Linked DNA regions of Homo sapiens: region 1 is linked to region 2. The links come from fine-mapping of genetic effects on plasma protein levels. Region 2 holds a variant in brackets. A gene starts in the other region. All regions are shown on one strand. Distances are from middle to middle. Region 1 holds the start of ITGAM (integrin subunit alpha M). Region 2 overlaps ITFG1-AS1 (ITFG1 antisense RNA 1).

The links. PIP is the posterior inclusion probability: the model's chance that the variant is causal. The UK Biobank Pharma Proteomics Project read protein levels with antibody pairs (Olink). The fine-mapping took linkage between variants from a reference panel, not from the people measured, so its PIPs are less certain.
Region 1: ITGAM starts here. The variant in region 2 is fine-mapped to the plasma level of the ITGAM protein (UK Biobank, PIP above 0.99).

The regions. Positions count from the first base shown.
Region 1 is chr16:31,258,646-31,261,559 of GRCh38, forward strand. It overlaps ITGAM (integrin subunit alpha M), which reads left to right and starts at 1,330. Exons shown (of 30, transcript NM_000632.4): 1 at 1,330-1,447. The coding sequence starts at 1,420. RefSeq lists an enhancer at 1,087-1,186.
Region 2 is chr16:47,149,435-47,152,348 of GRCh38, forward strand. All of the region lies in intron 1 of ITFG1-AS1 (ITFG1 antisense RNA 1), which reads left to right. It also overlaps the pseudogene RPL23AP72. Among named protein-coding and RNA genes, the nearest start is that of ITFG1-AS1, 6.8 kb to the left of the region's middle. The variant G/A (reference allele first, on the strand shown) is at 1,223.

The DNA.
Region 1 (2,914 bases), 16 Mb before region 2:
TAAATTACTAGAAGTGAAAATTCTTGGGTGAAGAGCTTGAGGCCTTTACACACACACACACACACACACACAAAAATAGGCTGGATGCAGTGGCTCACACCTGTAATCTCAGCAGTTTGGGAGGCTGAGGAAGGAGGATCACTTGAGTCCAGGAGGTTGAGAATAGCCTGAACAACATAGCAAGATCTTGTCTCTACAAAAAATTTAAAAAAAATTAGCTGGCCATGGCAGCATGTGCCTGTAGTACCAGCTACTCGGAAGGCTGAGGTAGGAGGATCGCTTGAGCCCAGGAGGTTGATTGAAGCTGCAGTGAGCTGTGATTACACCACTGCACTCCAGCCTGGGCAACAGAGCTAGACTCTGTCTCTAAAAAAAGCACAAAATAATATTTAAAAAGCACCAGGTATGCCTGTACTTGAGTTGTCTTTGTTGATGGCTACAAATGAGGACAGCTCTGGCTGAAGGGCGCTTCCATTTCCATGGGCTGAAGGAGGGACATTTTGCAAAGTGTGTTTTCAGGAAGACACAGAGTTTTACCTCCTACACTTGTTTGATCTGTATTAATGTTTGCTTATTTATTTATTTAATTTTTTTTTTGAGACAGAGTCTCACTCTGTCACCTGGGCTGGAGTGCAGTGGCATTATTGAGGCTCATTGCAGTCTCAGACTCCTGAGCTCAAACAATCCTCCTGCCTCAGCCTCTGGAGTAGCTAGGACTACAGGCATGTGCCACCATGCCTGGCTAATTTTTTAAATGTATTTTTTTGTAGAGTCGGGGTCTCCCTATGTTGCCCAGGCTGGAGTGCAGTGGTGTGATCCTAGCTCACTGCAGCCTGGACCTCGGGCTCAAGTAATTCTCACACCTCAGCCTGTCCAGTAGCAGGGGCTACAGGCGCGCACCACCATGCCCAGCTAATTAAAAATATTTTTTTGTAGAGACAGGGTCTCTCTATGTTGCCCAGGCTGGTTTCAAACTCCCAGGCTCAAGCAATCCTCCTGCCTTGGCCTCCCAAAGTGCTGGCATTACAGGCGTGAGCCACTGCGCCTGGCCCGTATTAATGTTTAGAACACGAATTCCAGGAGGCAGGCTAAGTCTGTTCAGCTTGTTCATATGCTTGGGCCAACCCAAGAAACAAGTGGGTGACAAATGGCACCTTTTGGATAGTGGTATTGACTTTGAAAGTTTGGGTCAGGAAGCTGGGGAGGAAGGGTGGGCAGGCTGTGGGCAGTCCTGGGCGGAAGACCAGGCAGGGCTATGTGCTCACTGAGCCTCCGCCCTCTTCCTTTGAATCTCTGATAGACTTCTGCCTCCTACTTCTCCTTTTCTGCCCTTCTTTGCTTTGGTGGCTTCCTTGTGGTTCCTCAGTGGTGCCTGCAACCCCTGGTTCACCTCCTTCCAGGTTCTGGCTCCTTCCAGCCATGGCTCTCAGAGTCCTTCTGTTAACAGGTGCATGGGGGTGGGGTGGGGGACTCTGGGTGGGGAGGAGGGTAACTTTTGGGTCTGTCATAAATAGAGGGCCCAGAATATGTAGGAGTCAGTCTGGGGAGAGGCAAAGGGGATTTGGGGAAGGAGAAAGGGTTCAAGAAGAAGCAGGGAGAACAGCTAGACCCAGACAGGCTGGCCAGGGAAGCCTGGATGAATGACCACATTCATGGACTGTGCAAGGCTGCTTGCCGGTCCCCTTGCTTCACACATGAGGAGACGGAGGCCCAGGGAGGAGAAGTGACATGGCTCAGGGTGCGCAGCAGGTGTGAGACCCCTTTCCTGAGTGCTTCCTCCTGGATCCCCTCTCACCATCTCCACTTTGCCTCCGGTTCTATTTTCCAAGGTCCCGGGTGCAAATGTTTGTTGAATGACTGATGAATGAAAATGATTTGAGTTTGTTACCTTTTATGCTTATATGTTGTGGAAAATGAAATTCTCCTCAAAAGGGAAGGAAATACTTGAGAGCTGCATAGGAAGGAAATTATCTAATTAAGAATGTATAGAAACTTCACTGTTGGGCAAATCATCGTTGTGACACCGGGGGAAGAAGCCATTTAGGTGCTCAGAAGGGAGGCTGGAATTCAGAGCAGGACTGGACGTGCCCCACGACGGTGGTTCTTAGGTCAGGAGTCAGCAAACAGTGGCCTGGGGGCCCGATATGGCCCACGACCTGTTTTTGCACAACCTGCCAGCTAGAGATTGAAGATGAACACTGATAATCGATTTGATGATAGGGAGCACCACCCCCAAAGAATTCTATTTGTCTCATTTGTAAACCCGTATTACAAACAAATTGTACTCAATCATTATGTTTGAAATTTCCCTAATGACAAATTTGTGGAAAAGTATTTTCTGTCTTGTTATATAAGTACTTGTACAACATATTCTATCAGCCTCTTGGTCTGCAAAACCTAAAATTTACTATCTGGCTGTTTACAGAATAAGTGTGCTAATCCCCGCCCCAGGCTAACAGAGCTGGACCTGGGAGGCAGACATCTGGATGCTGGGTTAGTTAGGGTGACCGAATGGATGGGAAAGGGAATGGAGCAGGAAGACATGCTGCTATCTTTTTTTTTTTTTTTTTTTTTTGATACAGGGTCTTTCTCTGTTGCCCAGGCTGTAGTGCAGTGGCATGATCATGGTTCACTGCAGCCTTGACCTCCTGGGTTCAAGCAATCCTCCCACCTCAGCCTCCTGAGTACCACTACACCCGGCTAATTTTTTATTTTTTGTAGAGATGGGGTCTCACTGTGTTGCCTAGGCTGGTCTTAAACTCCTGAGCCCAGGTGATCCTCCCACGTCAGCCTCTTAAATTATTGGGATAACAGGCCTGAGCCACCACACCCAGCCATTGCTTTCTTTTAAATTATTATTAGTTTTTGTTTTTTTTTTGTATTTAATTTTGAGATAGGATCTCTCTCTGTTGCT
Region 2 (2,914 bases):
TGTCTTGGCTGTTCTTGGTCTCTTATATTTCCGTGTACATTTTAGAAACCTCTTAGCAAGCTCGGCAACACAACACCCCGTTGGGATGAGTGGAATTGGGAGGGCTTTGACATCTTTACAATTTTGAGTCTTCCTGTCCATTAACATGGTTACAGATGTGCATTTATTGAAAATTTCCTTAGCGTTTCTCAGAGAAGTTTTATAATTTACCAGACAGAGATGTATGCTACATCTTGTGTTATACTAATTCCCAGGTACTTGACTTTTTCGATGCTGTTATAAATGTTACCTGTTTTTAAATCCCATTTTCTAATTGTTCATGCTGGCGTATAAAAATGCAATTGATTTTAGAAAGTGCCAAACTGTTCTCTAGAGTGGCTTTCCTATTTTGCATCCCCACCAGCAATATATGAAAATTCTAGTTTTTCCTCATCCACATTAGCACTTTGAATTGTCAGTATTCTTTGTTTTATCCATGAAAGCACTTTTTATTCATGATAGATGTGTATTGGTATCTCTTCATAGTTTTAGTATTCATTTCCCTAATGGCATATCCGGTTGAACATCTTTTCATATGCTTGTTTGCTACCTATATATCCTCTTCAGTGAAGTATCCTCAAATTATTGCCCACTCAAATTGTTTTTTATTTTTACTGGTGAAAAGATGTCCATTTAGAATTAGCCAGCTGGACTCAGTTTAGATGATTCCAATTTTGTTGGCAACATCCAAAGCATCATAAGCAGGAGCCAGTCAAACACACGCCTTCTCTCCATTGGGCCTGATTGATCAGGCTACATCAGTGTTGCAGAGCTTCCCCACATCCTGTTTGCTCTGGTGCTTGTTGGCTTTGCCATCCACGGTGACCTCAAGTGTGTTGTTATCTTCTGTCTTCTTCATGGCACACTCAATGCTCAGGGAATCGGGCAGAGTGATGAAGCTTGTTTCTCCTGGGGGCACTCTTCTGAGGATATCTGGGTTGTCTCTAGAGCTGTAGTGTTTTGGGGTGCTGGAAGGTGGGTGAAGTGCAGATACTCCTTTTTGTGTGTGGCTGTGGATGCTTTCCAGCACTGCCTTCTTGGCCTTCAAAGCTTTTGCTTTGGTTTCAGCTTTGGGAGAGGCAGGAGCTTCCTTAGGTGTCATCTTGTCTGAGTTTTTGTATTGTTGAGTTTTGAGAGTTCTTTATAGATTCAGGATACAAGTCTGTTGTTGGATATGTGATTT[G/A]AAAATATTTTCTTGGCCGGGCATGGTGGCTTATGCCTATAATCCCAGCACTTTAGGAGGCTGAAGCGGGTGGATCACTTGAGGTCAGCAGTTCGAGACCAACCTGACCAACATGGTGAAACCCCATCTTTACTAAAAACACAAAAATTAGCCAGGCATGGTGTCACACACCTGTAGTCCCAGCTACTTGGGAGGCTGAGGCAGGACAATTGCTTGAACCTGGGAGGCAGAGGCTGCAGTGAGCCGAGATCACACCACTGCACTCCAGCCTGGGTGACAGAGCAAGACTCCATCTCAAAAAAAAAATTTTTTTTTCTTTGCATATATAGCTTGTCCATTCTCTTGGAAGTGTCTTTGTCAAAGCAAACATTTTTAATTTAGATGAAGTCACATTTATCAGTTTTTAAAAAGAATCATAACTTTGGTGTCATTTCTAAGAACTCTGCTTACCCCTAGCCTATGAAGACATTCTATGTGTTCTTTTAAAGTTTTATAGTTTTACATTTTATATTTGAATTTATGACCCACTTTGAGTTAATTTTTGTGTAAGGTGTGAGGTTTAGATCAAGGTTCTTTTTTTCTCCTTTGCCCTTTGTATTTATGGCAAATACAGATGATCAATTGTTCTGACACTATTTGTTGAAAAGACTGTCTTCCACTTAGTAACTTTTACATCTTTGTCAAACATCAAATGTCTATATTTGTGTGAGTTTATTCCTGGACTCAATTTTATTCCATTGGTCTATGTGTCTCTCTTTGCCAATACCACACTATCTTTATTACTCAAGCTTTATAATAAGTTTTAAAGTCACATAGTTTGATTTCTTCAACTTTGTCTTCTTTTTCAACATTGTTTTAAACTAGTCTAGTTTATTTTCTCTTTCATATAAGTTGCACAAAATCCTGTCCATGTCCACAAAAAGATACTGCTGGGATTTTGATAGGGATGGTGTGAAATGTACAGATCACTTTGGGGAGTACTGGCATCTCCTAATCCATGAACACACTGTCTTTCCATTGAAGTCTTCCTTGGTTTCTTTCATCACCTTTCTTCTTTGTTAATATGTGCATTTAGTGTTATAAATACCACCCCCCAGCACTGCCTCCTACAAATTTTGTTACATTGTATTTTTCATTTGGCTCAAAATATTTTAAAATTTCCTTTTGAGACTTCCTCTTTGACCCTATGGTTATTTAAAATATCTGGGTATTTTCCATGGATCTCCCTAGTTCAATTCTATTATAGTCTGATAATCTACTTTGTATGATTTCTATTCTTTTAGATTTGGTAGGACTTGTTTTATGGCCCAGAATATGGTCTATCTTGGTAAGTGTTCCATGTGCTCTGAAAAAGACTATTTTGCTGCTGTTGGTTAGAGTGTTATATAAATAGCCACTAGGTTAGATTGACTGAGTGCTTTTCAGGTCAGCTCTAAGCTTTCTGATTTCCTGCCTACTTTTTCCTTCAGTTACTGTAGAAAAGTGTTGATGTCTCCCACTTAAATCGTGAGTTTGTCTGTTTCTCCTTACAGGTCTGGCGGTTTTTACTTTTTAGTTTATGAACACTTAGGATTTTTATGTTAAGAAGAGGGGCCTGATCTTGGGTGAGTCTGCTCTCCAGATGAGGCTGGCAGATGAACAGTGATGACACTCCCAGAAATTAGGATAATAAGTCCTTTATTCTTGATGCCG